Linked DNA regions of Homo sapiens: region 2 is linked to region 1. Evidence: fine-mapped expression QTL. Tissue or cell type: whole blood. Region 1 holds a variant in brackets; the other region holds the start of a gene. All regions are shown on one strand. Distances are from middle to middle. Region 1 overlaps RAP2A (RAP2A, member of RAS oncogene family). Region 2 holds the start of RAP2A (RAP2A, member of RAS oncogene family).

Evidence for each region.
Region 2: RAP2A starts here. The variant in region 1 is fine-mapped to the expression of RAP2A in whole blood (INTERVAL, PIP above 0.99).

What each region holds. Positions count from the first base shown.
Region 1 is chr13:97,461,100-97,469,445 of GRCh38, forward strand. It overlaps RAP2A (RAP2A, member of RAS oncogene family), which reads left to right. Exons shown (of 2, transcript NM_021033.7): 2 at 3,106-8,029. The coding sequence ends at 3,343. Among named protein-coding and RNA genes, the nearest start is that of RAP2A, 31 kb to the left of the region's middle. The variant A/G (reference allele first, on the strand shown) is at 3,811.
Region 2 is chr13:97,430,739-97,439,084 of GRCh38, forward strand. RAP2A (RAP2A, member of RAS oncogene family) reads left to right here and starts at 3,431. Exons shown (of 2, transcript NM_021033.7): 1 at 3,431-4,046. The coding sequence starts at 3,733. RefSeq lists enhancers at 2,528-2,667, 2,615-3,546, 2,818-2,947, 2,968-3,017 and silencers at 3,168-3,527, 3,548-3,607, 7,459-7,652.

The sequences.
Region 1 (8,346 bases):
ACCCTGTGTTAAGTGGGAACAGATACTCTTACTCCCTTTTTACTATCAAAGAAATGAAATACAGATATGTAAAGGAAATGATCTCATTGGCAGAACTGGAAGCAGAGCCTCCAAATCTGGGTGTAGAATCTTTTCTACTGTCCCAAATTTTAACAGAGAGACAAAATTTATCACCGTCTGGTATTCTGAAATGTACATAATTTTTCTCAACATCGTACTCAGTTTAAAAATCTTCTGAGGATATTAATGTGGATTTCTCTAGTGTCTTTAGAAACTTGATTTTAGAAAAGGCCACTGACAAGTTAGTGATATAATAAACAGGTCCTCTGATACTGACTGCATTTTCATCTACATTTACCAGTTATTAAATGCTGTTATATGTGGAACTGTGTTTGCAATATTTTATTTACTGTTTTGAGAATTAGGTTGATGGTAAGATTTATTCAAATTCTTGATTTTAATAATGTATCAATACAACTTAATAATTTGATTTATTTGCAAGTTTTGAAAATCCACATATTCTAGTAGATCCTGAACTTAACTAAAAGTGTAAGAAATATTTCACATATAAAACATGATACAGGCTGGGTGCGGTGGCTCACGCCTGTAATCCCAGCACTTTGGGAGGCTGAGGCGGGCGGATCACGAGGTCAGGAGATCGAGACCATCCTAGCTAACACGATGAAACCCTGTCTCTACTAAATATACAAAAAATTAGTCGGGCGTGGTGGTGGGCGCCTGTAGTCCCAGGTACTCAGGAGACTGAGGCAAGAGAATGGCGTGAACCCGGGAGGCGGAGCTTGCAGTGAGCAAAGATCATGCCACTGCACTCCAGCCTGGGAGACAGAGCGAGACTCCGTCTCAAAAAAAAAATATATATATATATATATTTATATATTTATATTTATATATTTATATAGATATTTATATATTTATATATATTTATATATATATTTATATATATATTTATATATTATATATATTGTATTTAAACATTCTTTAAAATATTTATCATTTATCTCAACTAATAGAAAGTGATCTTATCACTTTTTATTATTCATAGACAGACTGAAATTTGTTTTAACTTAAATTCAACCAATGTTTTACTTAATTTTATTAATGTTTTTAAGTTACTCCACTGTCAAGCAAAGCATTTTAAAGTACACTGTGATGTATATACTTTCATAAGAAAAACGAAATGTAATTACATTTTGCAAGTAACACAAATTGGAAGCTGACATTGTCCTGACATGGCTGGCAGTGTCTGCTCCCTGCCAAGCTTCTCTGTATAGCCAATCAAGAGAGTTTATATGCAAAGTAGCAAATACATGGTGTTTTGTAATGCAGCTTTATTCTCACTGCCACTTGCCCTCCTAGAGGCCATGGGATGCACAAATTGTTTGTATGTAAGAGTCCTAGAAGATGTTAAAAACCCTTGTGTCTTATGTTCAGAGCTGTCAGCATGATCTAAGGCCCGAAATCGTAAGGTACAGTAGTGTACAGTAAATTTATATAAAGTCCTTTGATATAAATTGAAGTTGTCCAAATTCATTTCCTATAAAATGATAATATCCAAATTCTAGGTTTGCCTTTGATGTTGTTCCTTCCACTCATTTTTAAGTTGTTTTCATGTTTCACATTGCCAAATGGCACACTACCTGGAGTATGCCCTCTTGTTGAGACCATTCTTAGTTTGATATAGTGTCAAAGAAAAAAAGTGAGAATGTTGGGAATTTGGTTTGCTTTACAAGTTAGGATGAGTGGAGAGAACCCTCTTGACAGGATGAAGAAATCTGTGGAAGTATCATAGCGAACAATAACCACCTGCCTATTATCCAGTTTCCTGAATGATAAAAATTGTCTATGCATCCTGCCTCAAAGGCTTGACCATGGGGTGGTTTTCTCTTCTGACAGATTTAGCTGTTTCCAGTCACATTTGTTATCACTTTTGTGCGATCTTGCTGTTTAGCTCCTTTAAATCAGAAATACATTCTGCTTATGGGAAGACACACACACACAAACACACACACACACAGATTTATACTAAAATCACAAAAACCTTTTAAAATGTCTTGTGAAAATATATTAGCTATCTTTCTTAGAACAAACATAAAGAAGAATAGTAAATAAATGTGCAGTCCAGCACCAGTGTTGACATCTGTTGTGAAATGTGCTACATGGAGTAACCATTGTAGAGACAATCATCTTAGGCACCAAAATGACTTAGGAGCTTCTTTCTTTGTTCTTTCTTATCACTTACTATTTTTATTAGTTTAGCTTTTTCCAAACGTGTTTACTCAGAGATACCTATTTTAGTTAGGAAGAAAAAGAGAAATAACACCAATTAAAGCTAATTGAGGCTGAATTCTTGTCAGTCTTAAAAGAATCCTAATTGTTTCTCTTTGAACTGACTAATCCATAAAAGTTTTCTGAAGGGATGGGGTGTGGTTGTATTTGATAGCTTCCATTTGGATGATTTCTACTACCTTTTTTCTTGTTTGAGAACTATTAGAACGAACATGATCATTTTTTCAAGCTGGAGTGCGGTGGCACGATCTCAGCTCACTGCAACCTCTGCCTCCCAGGTTCAAGCGATTCTCCTGTCTCAGCCTCCCGAGTAGCTGGAACTACAGGCACCTGCCACCACACCCAGCTGATTTTTGTATGAACATGATCAATTTTATACACATAGAACATAGTAAAATGCTGATAATTATAAGTTGTTTGTTTACTCATTGTAGCTATTTACTGTGTGATCAACTGTGAAATTTTGTGCAACCCTCTCTCAGAATGGAAAAAAAAGAGGATTTAGTCTGAGTTTCTGAGAATAATTTTCCAAGTATATCTGGAAAGGTAAATTGATTTTAAAGGATATATAATTGATTAATTAAAACATCATTTCATAAAACTCATTTTATCATCCACTGTGAGAGCAGCTTCAAATGCCCTCAGATCTAAGTATCAAGCCAAGTGGTACAAATCATTTTCATGCAACTGAAGATACCATTTATGTTGGAATAGCCCCCAAAAACGAAAATACACGTGACCTGTTTAACTTTGTGCTAACTGTTACAATGTATGTGTGTTTTGTTTATTCTCTCATAGGTATGAGAAAGTGCCAGTCATCTTGGTTGGGAACAAAGTGGACCTGGAAAGTGAGAGAGAAGTATCGTCCAGCGAAGGCAGAGCCCTTGCTGAAGAGTGGGGCTGCCCCTTTATGGAAACTTCCGCTAAGAGTAAAACAATGGTGGACGAACTCTTTGCAGAAATTGTGAGGCAGATGAACTATGCTGCTCAGCCTGACAAAGATGACCCATGCTGTTCTGCATGTAACATACAATAGCATCCAAATATGGCTGTCCTGGATGGGATTTGCCCAATGTCGTAGGTGATAGAAAACTCGCCTACTCCACTGCAGAACTTGCAGAATGCGTGGTGTTAATCTACAGAGAACTGCAGCCCTTATTCAGAATTGAGCAGTGATTGTCAGTTGATATCTCTGAGTAACATTTGGGTTCAGTAACTACAGTTTTCACCATTTGTCCTCAGTCTCCTTTATGCATCTGCAACTTTAAGGCATAGTCCATCGATCTACAGGGTGATCTCATTTGAAAGCTATGATGGCATTGTCGCTGAGTTGACAGAAGCAACTATTGTACAAATTAAAAATAACCATAAGGGAGAAACCAGAAGAATTCCTCTGACCACTTACAATTAAAATATTTTGTCTTCTTTAAAAAAATAAGTAAAGGAGAAATATTTTCCTACAAGAGTACTGAATTTCAGGAAATGGGATAGAGCTTCTAACCA[A/G]TGTATTCCGTCAAGTAAGATAATAACAGCTGACCTGCCAACAGCATTACAGGGAGATTCTTTGCTCAGCTAACACATTTCTGTTTTTCAAAATTGATGCTTAATTGTAGCTGTTATTCTAATTTGTGACATGGAACTAACTCATGCTTCAATCCTTGATAGAGCAAAACTCAGAACAGGTTATGTAAAAATATAGTCTGGCTTTAGAATTTGTTAATTCACCTGCTTTGCCACAGAAAATGGAGGCTTTCACAAGGGTTTGATCAGAATTAAAACCCCAAACCCGCCCTCTGTTAGGGGTGGTCTTTATAACTTTACTGAACAAGAGGGAAGCAACTGTGATGGGAAGAGATTACCTAGCCTTACTAACAAGAAGCATTCTAATAGATAAACTAGTACCATCATGTAAGGAAGATGAAGCCATGTTGCATCCACATGTTCCCGTTTGCAGAAACCTCACAGGACAGTACGAATATCTGGCATTTTTAAGTTCATTAAAGCAGCAAATTCCTTCTCGCCTTTAAGGGCTATGGTTGTAGTGTGACCCGTGGCTAACCTGCTTTCAAAATCAAGTATTTGCTGTAGCAGAGCTTTATTGCAGGCATTTTAAAAATTGAATAACCATGTGAAATAATTTGGGCTTAAAAGTGAACATAAATTATAGAGTGGAAGGTAAGGGACAAAAGCCTTTTACCTTTAATTTTCCTGGAGAATTATATAAAGGTTTTCTTAGAACAATTTTGCCCTGATTACTGAAGCGTCAAATAAAGCTGGAGTGAAAATTTTGTTTTGAAAAGGTGCTCAAGCTCTGACATTTTTGGTTTTCATAGTCGTGAAGTATTTATCATTTGCATGACTAATGGCACAGGAAAAACCTATTCATAAGTTTTACAATCAAGTATAGAGGGGTCTTCAGCTAACTTAGTTATACATAAATGCTGAAAAGATTATCTTGAGCTGGGCCTTGGGAGAAGAATTTGGCCTTCAGAACTGCAATATCACTGAGCCTGCGATCTATACACCACCCCACATTTTGTTGGTTTCACAGTCTTGTGCAAGTAACCTCTGGTCTTACGTGTGTAACTGAGAGAAGAGTGTGTGTTTGTGTGTGCATGTGTGTTTATTGTTCCTAAGAATTTGGCACAAGTCAGAGATAATTGCCTATACTAAGAATCTATACTGCAGAATATAGTGTATCAAAAACTTTTTTCTTTTAAATTATTAAAGTGTCTTTTATACTTTTATGAAATCATTGGTAGCCCCCCAAGTGTTTAATAACTGGCATTAAGCTTAGAGGGTGAAAAAAAAAAAAAAGATTGATAGTATTTTTCATAATGAAAAAACTGAAGAGATACGTGAATGAAACCAGGCCATAGCTGTCATAAATCTTTGACTTTTGAATATTTACATTCTTCAGTATAATTTTTTATAATCCTCAATTATGAACCACCTTGTTTATAGGACAAAAAAATTTAACCAATTTTATTGAAACGAATTTCACTGTGTAAAAGTTGGTTTGATTCAAACATGTAGAGAAGTTGTAGATTCAAGATATATGATTTCTCTATGGAAATAAAAATATTTGTTAGTGAATTGGTTGAGTTTTGATTCCTCTAACTTCTCAGAATGATTCTTTAGAATTCTATAATTCATAGCAATTTTTGACAAGTAAGATTGCAAAATAGAAATATCTATAAAGATTCCACAGTTTGACATTATGGCTTGCTATGCAGATGTGAAAATAGGTTAAATAATATGAAAGATATGGCAGAATGTAAAGTGGAAAAGATGACCTAAAATTTTGAGTTGTATTAATAGTTAAAAACATTTGTGTCAGATGACAGGGTGGGCTTTTACTGTCAAGACATGAATAAGAACTGATCTGGCTGCCTGATGAGTGTTTCCACGCAGCCCTGCATATTTAGTGACCAAGGCATCAAGGACATCCCGAAACTGGAAATTCATATCCATCTGGTATGAATATATAACTCAGCTGGCAAATGAATGTGTTTGTTGAGATATTACAGTAATAAAACACTTAAGAACAGGAAGATTACATTTGTTGGCATACGAAACCTTAGTGGCTACAGAAGAAAGTTGACCTTGTGTCACTATTTATTTTATGCCCTGATCAGACTAGCAACTTAGATAAGTGAAAGTTTTTCTAACATGCCTTAAAAATATTATGGTTTGATCCAAAGACCCACTTTTTCTTTAGCTCTTGTGATAAGATTTTCTTTTTTTTACTTTTATACAAAGGCAGCATCTTTGAATTTTTTTTTCTTTTGATGTTGCAACTTTTGGGTTCTTTTAAACTGTGATAGTGATGGTAACTGATGCCTTTCATTTTGTTCAACTTATACAAAACAAGCCAGCATCTGATCAAAAGTATTACATAAAATATTTTCTTAAACTATTGAAAGGTGCTTTGATGATTTTCTCCTTTGGTTTGTAGAATTAGGACTGAACTTTTGACTCAAATTGCTACAGTTGCCATCACCTTTCTGTGGTAATACTACTGATATTTGCTTTTCTATATAAAGAAATGTTGCCTAAGGCTGTCTGGTATTTCTTTTCAAGGGTTTTCCAGTATGAATGTTAATGTTGTCAGTGTATGTATGAATATGAAAGTGCTTTGTTTTGTTTGTTGCTGTTTTTTGTTTATGTGTGTGTTTTTAATTTTTTTGTTCTTATCAGCAGTCTTGTGTTAGCACTGGGTAAGCTTTAATTGTCCCTTAGCCAATCAAACATTAAGGACTATGGAGGTCTTTTTTTTTTTATTTAACATGTCATTGTTCATCTATTAAATCTTGATCAGGGTTTCAAGAATGACTGCAGTGGGTTTTGGAAACAGACTTATCATTATTGATTTGAGGTTTCCCAGAGATATAGTTCACAGTTAATTGTTGCGCTCTAATACAACTGACCATTTAAAATTGAACAAGTTTATTGTTTTGTAACAATGTCAGTTGTTAAACCTTGACATTTCAATTAAAACATGAATTGTAGTTATAACTCAATGCAAATTCAACAGTTGTATTTGGAGTTAAATTATTTTAACAAATAAATTTATTTAATGAAACTCTGGATTTGCTTTGTTTTGTACATGCTCATGAGAGAAATGTATTATATACAAAAACAATTAAAAATTGCCATATAATGAATTTAGTACTCTTCATACAAAAATATTTTAGCTGATTTGAGAGTTCATCATATAAAAAGGCAGGTAGGTAGATAATTTTCATAGTCTTTAAAAATAAAAATAACATGTAAGAGACTGTAAAATCAGTTATTATAAATATAAACTTATCTCTACAAATGATTTTATATTTTGAATGGTAGCTGGTTAATTTAAAGCCTGATGCTAAGGTTAACAGAATTGTTCAAATAATTAACATTAATTAGCAATATCACTAAAATGATTCAGAGGCCTTCTAGTGATGGCTTGAAGCCGTCTTTCTGTTTTCAGGTCATGTGGATCCGAAGGTGCCAGAAGCTGAAGGTTGCCGCCAGGCTGTAGGGCCTGCTTGTTCTATATGGGGCCCTATGAAAGTTGACAGATGCTGTTAATTGTATACAGCCTTCAGCTGCTCTGATAAGGAGCCCATTCATTTCCTAAGCCAATTTAAACTATGCCTTTTGGTTATGTTGCCTTCAAACTCTGTTGAAATCCTCTGGCAGCATTCCACCAGTTGAGAAGCTTCATTGTTTTAGATTATAAGAATAATTTGAATGAATATAACAGAGGCACTGTAGATAGAATCCCAGATATTTAAAGGAAAACATGCCTATATTTTAGGAATATCTTCTGAAGAACTTCATAATTTTATTTGAAGTGTTTGTAAATTTTTTAATAAATTATTTAAATGTATCAATAGTGGATAGTTGGAAGAACGTCTTTGAGGCTAAAAAGTAGTACTCTGAAATTCTCTCAAGTTATATTATTTGTCTGTTAGAGGTCCACGAATGAAAATATATGTAGCTAAAGGAGTAAGGTGCTGCCCAATTTGGAACCCAACTGACCTCTAGGATCTATGAAGCAGAGAATATTACCACAAACTTCTGAAAGAAGCTGTTGACCTCGTTTCTTAATTTAAAATATGTTGCCACATAAATACTAATAAAACATAGTTGCTCTTCATCTCTTAAATGGATCATTCCAACTGGTTTTACATCGTTGAATATTATCTAGTATTTTTAATAAATATTTTCATAAATAGTTTTTGTGGTTTTTTTGTTTGTTTTTGAGACAGTCTCGCTCTGTCACCCAGGCTGGAGTGCAGTGGTGTGATCTTTGCTCACTGCAAGCTCCCTCCCGGGTTCACACCACTCTCCTGCCTCAGCCTCCCAAGTAGCTGGGACCACAGGTGCCCATCACCATGCCTGGCTAATTTTTTGTATTTTTTAGTAGAGACGGGGTTTCACCATGTTAGCCAGGATGGTCTCGATCTCCTGACCTTGTGATCCTCCCACCTTGGCCTCCCAAAGTGCTGGGATCACAGGCGTGAGCCACCATGCCTGGCCTATAAATAGTTT
Region 2 (8,346 bases), 30 kb before region 1:
GATAATTGAAGGTATCTGGCTATAGGTGAGATAACTCCCTTTCAGATTTAGTGGAGAGAGGAGAAATGAAGATTTTCTTTCTTTTTATTCTCCTGGCAATGCACTTTGGAAACTAAAGGGATCCTGCAGTGTCAGTTACTGCGTTAAGTTTTCACTATCTTACAGATTTACAGCTCTTGGGAATAATTCAAATTTCTTTTATATCATTTTTATTTTTTATTTCCCACAAACAAATGAAGATATAAGTTATTTCTATAATCATCTCAAAATAGAGTTTATGCTGGCATCGGAATGAACATGACTAAGGGGTTAGAAAATAGACATCCATCTCCCACCCAAGTCCTCTAAATTCTCTACACGTCCTGACATCCTTTTTATAGCAGCTAATCTTTCACCCAACATTTCACCTACAACCACAAATCAGGTAAGTACCATCATTTAAGCCAGAATAGGTGAGAAAATATGCTCCGACCTGTCATGTTTCTTTTGCCTCTTGGTGGTTAAAAATCAACCTTTATGGTACTGAGCATGAAATCTGAGGCCTGTCAATATAAGGCCTGTAAATAAATGAACTGTAACCACCCCAAGGGCTGCAGTCTCTATACCCCTTCTTATCAAAAACGTCAGCATTGATGAGAGGTCAGGGGAAATAGCCTGAGAAATGTCACAAAGCTGTCCTACTCTGTATTATGCTAAATGGAGTGACTACGGAGCCCACTCACTATTTTTGTGACAGCTTCAATCCAGAGCTTCTCAACATCTAGGGACCTAGGAGTCATGAAAACAGTTACTTAAGGCAACCTTCTGGACCCCACAATCCCAATACAAATTTCTCAAAAACATTAATCACTGGAACTTCATTCCTTGCAAAGTAAATGGACTTAGAGCTCCTTTGTAATGCAAGGTACTAGATGAGTTGTCATGATCTAGAGAGAAAGCTTCACGCTTCCTGGCTCTATTTAACAACCCTAAGAACTTCTTATCACCAAGATGCACAGTTAGAATCTTAAGACAGTCTGTCTTTCCTTGGAAAAGAAGTATAGCTTCTACTAACCCAAAGTAACCATGAATAAGCATACCAATTTTACACAAAATATGAGACTTCTGGAAAGCTAGGTGAACACCATACTTACCTACATCCTCTTGAAACATCCCTGCCAAAGTAGCTCAGATATGAAGCATCCATGTAAGCTCTTTCAATTTTAATTCACTATTTCATGTTAACTAGCCTAGGATGAAATAGTAGATCCTCTTCGGTTCCAGTTCCCTTAAAACAGTCCTGATTCTTAGTCCTTTTTATTAATATAATACCTTCACTGCTGATTCTGGTGGCTCAGATAGTACCATTCATATTTTAATGATATGTAATCAAGAAATGCTGAGTTATATTTTACTACATACACATTTTTAAATTCAGAGGACATTTGTCCTTGATAATTTTAAATGAAAACTTGGTGTGTGTTCATTACAGCAAGGTAATGCAAATATAAGTTATCCATTCTAATATAACGAAGCTATAGGGAAATAAGAAACTACTAAATTTGAGTAGTCTTTGTAGTAGTTTGACTATCGACAGAAAAGATGGTGAAAGAATACCTGGCTTTTAACTCAGACCAAAATCCCCTCTGCATGATGACCTTGTGGGAAAGAGGAACGGGGAGAGGTATGCCAGGCTCTAACAACAGAACTACAGAAACGTGTTATTCGCAGGAAATGTGCGACAGTAACGAACAGGTGAGACTAGTTTGAGAAGGACATAGTTTAAAGAAAGTAAACTGAATAACCAGTTACTGCAAAAAATAATGCAGGAAAGCTTGGGGATGTATCGTCTCCTAAATTTGACGTTATGGGTGGGAGAGGATGTGTAACTAAGATGCAATGCTAGCGACAGAACGCTAAGTTTTAAAACTCAATAGTGAAAGAAAAAAAATAATGTTTTGGGAGGAACGCCTGGAAGACCCATGCAACTGCTGCACGATGTTTCCTTAAGGACCGGAACATTTCTCACCCTGAAGACAAAAGTCCCTGTGTTCTCGATTCAGCCCACATCCCTCAGCACCATTTCCATGCCCATCATTTAGGCAGAATGCCACGGAGGCGACGTGAAAAGTGGAATTCATCATTCTGGCTTGCAACGCATCTTGTTCTTTTGCCAGAACAGGGCACAGCAACTGGCTCCTCAATCTCTGCCCCTCCCAAACCCCAGCAGCCGGTCCCTGTCTCCATCCCGCCGGCCTCGGTGGCAAGGGGCTCGCGAGCTCTGGTTGGCTTGGCCGAAGCTTCCGTCACTCGCCAGCTCACCTACGATTGGTTGGCAGAGCGTGCGCGAAGAGCCCCGCCTGGCAAGGCACTGGGAGGTGGGCTTGCGGATCCTACGACTAGCGTTTTTCTCGATTGGTTGAAGGAGTAAAGGCACGTGGTATGGGGGCGCTCTCTTATTGGTCGTGAATGGTACCTTGTGGTACAGAGACGTGATGTGGTTGGCTAGAATGAATCCCAGCTTCCCACTAGATGCCCCTAGCTGGCTGTTGCTATGAGGAGTCCAGGGCCTTCCGGCTGCCGTTCGGGATTCCGCTCTCCAGGTTTTCAACTCACCCGTGGCTGACAGGGCGTGGGAAGAGCTCGACTTCAGTTCGGCACCGAAAGGGGCGGGTCTAGAAGAAATGTGGGCGGGTCCAGAGGGTTGGTGGGCGGGACCCCGGCGACGTCAGCGGGCTTGGACCCGACTTCCGTGGTGTGTGGCCGCCTCTGACTCGCCCCTCTGGCGCGCTGCTAGAGGGGGGCGTCACCCTCCCATCAATGTCCTAACGCTCCAAAGCTTCATTTTGTTGCGTTTACACAACTTCAGTCAGAAGCCTGTAGGTGCCCCCCCCTTAAAGCTTCACATGCTAATACAAGATAAAACCAAAGCTCTAGGAGTGCTGACAGACTGGGTGGCATCGGACAAAGGCCCTCGCGGCCCCTCTTGGGCCTTGGGCATCTCTCCTTCACTCCCCGCCTCAGGATAAAGCTTGGAGGTAGCTCTAGCCCCTCTACCATCTCATCCCTTCCGAATTCTTAATGTCTCGGGAGTCTCAGGTTGACGCTGCTCCTGGCTTGGGCGGGAACTGCGCATGCTCGGTACACAGGCCCTGGGGTCTGACTGGGCGCGCTGGGTTCGGCGCTGCTCGGCGGTCGCGGTGCTTGTTTATCTCCGCGCGGGCAGAAGCTTCCGAGCCCCGCAAAGCCTCTCGGGAGCGCTCGCGGCCCGTCGCCTAGGGGGCGGGGGCGGGGCTGCGCCGCGGGCTCCGCCCCGGCCGCCGGACCCCGCCCCTGGCCGCGCTGCGGCTGGGGCTCGGGCGCGCGCTCGAGCGCTGGGGGTAGCGGCGGCGGCGGCGGCGGCGGCGGGCGGGGATCTGGGCGTGGAGGCGCGAGGGGCGGGGCGGGCGGCACTGCGGGCCCGCGGCTCGGGCGGCACCAGCGGCTCCCGGTCTCTCTCTCTGCTCGCCCTCAGTCCCACCCGGTGCCTACGGGGCCGCATCGCCGCCCGGCTCGGCCCGGCCCATGCCCAGGGCCGCTGCTCCCTCAGTTGCCGCCGCCGCCGCCGGCGCCCAGGGGGCCGCCGCGGCTGTGAGGTGGGGGCGGCAGCGGGAGGCGGCGGGGCGGGCCGCCGGGGCCGGGGCTGGGGGCGCAGCGCGGCCGGCGTAGGTCTATGTCGCGGGCGGCGGCGGCGGCGGCGGCCGCGGAGGGACGATGCGCGAGTACAAAGTGGTGGTGCTGGGCTCGGGCGGGGTAGGCAAATCCGCCCTGACCGTGCAGTTCGTGACCGGCACCTTCATCGAGAAATACGACCCCACCATCGAGGACTTCTACCGCAAGGAGATCGAGGTGGATTCGTCGCCGTCGGTGCTGGAGATCCTGGACACGGCGGGCACCGAGCAGTTCGCGTCCATGCGGGACCTGTACATCAAGAACGGCCAGGGCTTCATCCTCGTCTACAGCCTCGTCAACCAGCAGAGCTTCCAGGACATCAAGCCCATGCGGGACCAGATCATCCGCGTGAAGCGGTGAGCGAGGGCACACGGGGGCTTGGCGGCTGCACCCCGGAGTCACCGTCCCGGGGCTGGAACTCCCCGCGCGGGGCTCCGGGGAAGGGGCTTTCTGGGGGGTGGCTCCAAGCTGGAGGCTTTACTATTGTCATTCTGCTCCTCCTCCTCAATCTCAAATTTGAGTGCTTTGTTTCACAACTAAAATTTGGCATCGTGTTAGCCCACAGAACAGCTCTTTGTCTCTTGGACGTTGTTAGCATTGCTTGTTACAGAGCCCCCAAGGAAACAAAGTTTAAAACTTGCAGGGGGGAAAGGGGTGGATAGATTTGTCTTGGGAAGAGAGGAACTGTGCAGGTATAGTCGAGACATTTGCAGACTGAACAACAACAATCTGCCTTGGCAATGTTTGACAGTAAAAATCGCTCACACACCTATACAGTAAAGTCAAGTCCAGAGGAAGGAGACCTTTCTCATCTCGTTAAAGGTTTATGGTTCCAAGGCGTTTTACAAAAATTAAGTCTCTAATTTAGTGCAAAACTTTAAAGACAGATTATTAAATTATTTGAAGACATCATAAGCTAAATGGGGTTTCGAGAATATTAACAGAGGAGTACAAATAAGCCATTCACAGGAAAAGAATGCAGCTTAACTGTTTGTTTTTGTTTTTTTGTTTTTAATATAGCCGCCTTAACCCCTTCCAAAAAAAAAAAAAAAAAAAAAACACCACCACACCACCACCACCAGTTCCTGGAAACAAAACAGAAGCTTCTTCAAAAGTGTGACACAAGTATTAGCTAATTTAAAGTTAATGTTAATAAGCCTTTATATATATATATAAATTCTTTTCTAAAGTATACATTTTGGAAATATGGCTGATAAATGATTTAAAATGTTTGTTTTCTCTTAAATTCACTGAATATATTTTTCCGTGTAATTTTAAGCATTAGAAATGTGATAATATCTTAGTTCAAAGTTTTGGCAAATTTTTCTAATTATCATTTAATTACACATTACTGTTTCATCTAGTTCTTGTTAGTTAATGCCTGCTGATAATTTTGGTGTCCTTTTTTTCCTGCCTTATTCTACCTAGAGCCTAAATCTGAAGACCTTTACTGAAAGATGGTTGTAAGTGCACCGTAGACACAGTCACATTGTAAGTCAGTTTGAGTCCACTCATTTTGAAAGAGCAAGGACCAAGTTATGTGTACCCAGGGGATGATCAAAAATTCATTACGAGTAGTGAGTTTTTAATGCAACCTATGAGATCAAAGAGAAGGCTCTCTCTCTATTGCTCCACCCCCCCTTAACTGAGTATGCACTTTAATCGCTGAACTAAAATCGTGCATGTTATTCATCCTTGTGTTAAATTCCAAACTAGAATAAAGCAGATATTTTCGTGGTCTCTGCTGCTAAGATTTGTAAATTTGATAGCTTTGTACTTCTCCAGTATCATTTTCCTAAAGTTAAATGTTTATAGTTAAGAGATGAACAATTCTGGTGTTAAACTTAGTATGAGGATGGCATTTAAGGGGCTACATTTAAGTTACTTAAATTCTTATTACCCCCTCCCCCAACCACTCAATTAAAAAGAAACAAACCAAACCAACTGCAGGGTAGTCTGATACATTGCCACATGTCAATGTTAGGCCAAATGCATACATCAAAAAATAATCTAAGTAAATGCCCCAACAGCCTCACCCTTCACATTTAGATATATATGCTTAAAGATATGAAGATGCACATATACACTGATAAAGCCACATACCCATGGCTAACTTCTTGACACAAGCCTAGGGAACAAATATGGCAAAATATTATTGGATAATATGGTCCACATAATTTTGTAGTTTCTTGTAATTTAGTGCAGATTACTTTTCTCAGTTATAATAATAGGTTAGTCTAAACTCAGCATATTGGAGCAATTTGTTTATTTTCACTATGACCCAGAGGAAAAACATAGAGTAAAATTCTGCATGCCCAGTATCATTTTACTCACTAGTCTCAGTTCTTGATATAAAAAGATCATTGATCAGCTGAAGTAGAGTTCATAAATTCTCTTCACCAGAATTCAACCGTTGTATACATAAGAACCTCTTGGACCCTCACTTGTGTGTCTTTGTAATATGGTAGTAGTAAGGTATTTTACACCTCATCCTAACCCCAGCGTCTGGCTTCCCATCATTGATGGAGAGGACATGTGAATGCAGGTGGCCTCTTCTTTACCAGTCTTTCAGTATTTGATATCTACTGTCAAATTCAGTATTCAGCTTTAGGTCTAGGTCAGCACTTTTCAATAGAGATATAACGTGAGCCACATATGTAATTTTAACATTCCTAGTAGCTGATTTTTTAAAAATAACATAAATATATGGAATTAATTTTAATGTATTTTATTTAACCCACCATATTTAAAATAGAATCATTTTGACATGTCAGTATTCAAAAATTATTAATAAGGTACTTTACTTCTTTATACTGTGTCTTCAAAGTTTGGTATGTGTTTGACCTACCACATCTCAATTCAAACAAGTCACATTTCAAGTGCTCAGTAGCCGTATGTGGCCACAGGCTGCCATATTGGACAACAGAGGTCTAAGGTGTATATGATTTGGGGAAATGCTTGCTTATTTCTCTAAGCTTCAGTTTCCTTATCTGTGAAATAGAGATTAGCATGCACCTTCCAGAGTCCTTGTTAGAATTAAATGAGATAATGTATTTTAACATTCCCAAAACAATACCAGTACACAGAAATTGCTCAAAAAATTCTAGCTGTCATTCTTACTTTAATAACTTTGTCATTTATCTTCCTTAAATGTTACCCTTGATATAAATGTAATTTTAGAAGAAATAAATTTGTAATTGCATTTTGGAATTCATTACTTAGTATATTCAAGATGAGACTAAAAAGCAATGAGGTTAAAATAATCCTTGGAAGAATTGTGTTGGTATTCTCTTGAAATTATTTCCCCTTATGAAGGATCTGATGGAAAAGGGCATGAGAATGAACATTTAACTTCAAGTACAGTATAGCAATAATGCATAGCACTAATGCATAGCCAAACAACGAATGGAGCTTTTCATTTTTCATTTTCATTTCAAATAATAGCAGTCATTTTCAAGGATTGCTATTACTTGAAATGTTTCACTTTTAAGAAATGTGAAACTGACCCATACTCCCTTAAGTGTCTGTAAGTGTACATACCTCCGTATACATACATGACCTCTTGTCAAAGCCAAGTGGACCAACTGAAAATGGCTATATTTGTAAATTCATATGCTTTCTTTTCTTAACTTGATTTTGGGTGAGATGACACACACAAAGAAGAGTAACAGGGATATAGGAAATGTTTTTCAGTTGAAATAAAACTAGAATTTTTTTCTGATTTTGTAATTGCTTTTTTCATTGTTACCCATGCCAGGATCAGCCATGGTCCTGACATGAAGTTCTTGGAACATGATATACAAGGCCTCTTTGCTGTTAGGAAAAAGTCCAGAAATCTTCAACATGACCTTTCACAGTCCAGCTTGCTCTTATCCCTCCCTGCCTGTGCAGCCTCACCTCTTGCACCCATCCTTTTATTCTAGCACCCAGACCTTAAGTCCTTGAAAGTACCTTTCTCTGGGCTCTCCTTTGGCCTGTGGAAATCTACCTTTTTGCAGAGTTAATTCCTACTCCGTCTTTCACCCTCACCCCTGCTTAACCCATTTATACCGGAGGTTGCAAATGTTTTTTGTGAAATATCAGACCTTAGCAATGACCTTGAACAGTAGGATATAAATAACTCCCACAAGCTTAGTGTTCCAATAATGGAACACTAGGCATAGATGAGTTAAAAGATTTTTCCCCACTGAGGGAAGATGTCCTCTCAAACCAAAGTAACCCCTTTCCTGTCTTCCCTTACTAAACTTTATGCCTCACCTCTTTGCTCAATCACACATACCCTGTCCTTTCCCTTTTCTTTGAAGCACTCATCCAAATTTAATTATTTGTGTGATAATTTATGGGTAGCCAGCCTTTCTCACAAAACTCCAAGCCCACGTAGGTGACACAGCTCCTACTAGCACATAGGAAACAAGAAAAAATGTTGAAAAAATGAATGTTCAGAAAGAAAAGTATTTGTATTGTTGTTTGGCCTCAGTTTCCCTAAACATTTTGATTTCATAGATGGAGGAGATGATCTTTTAAAGTTCATTTTGCAGATGGAGATGATCTTCCTTCAGCTCGAACTTTCTGTGAGAACACTTCCAGTTGGGGCAGTGTTTAATACGAACCTCAAAGAATCAGAAACATGATGTATTCCAGATGGAGGAAATGGCA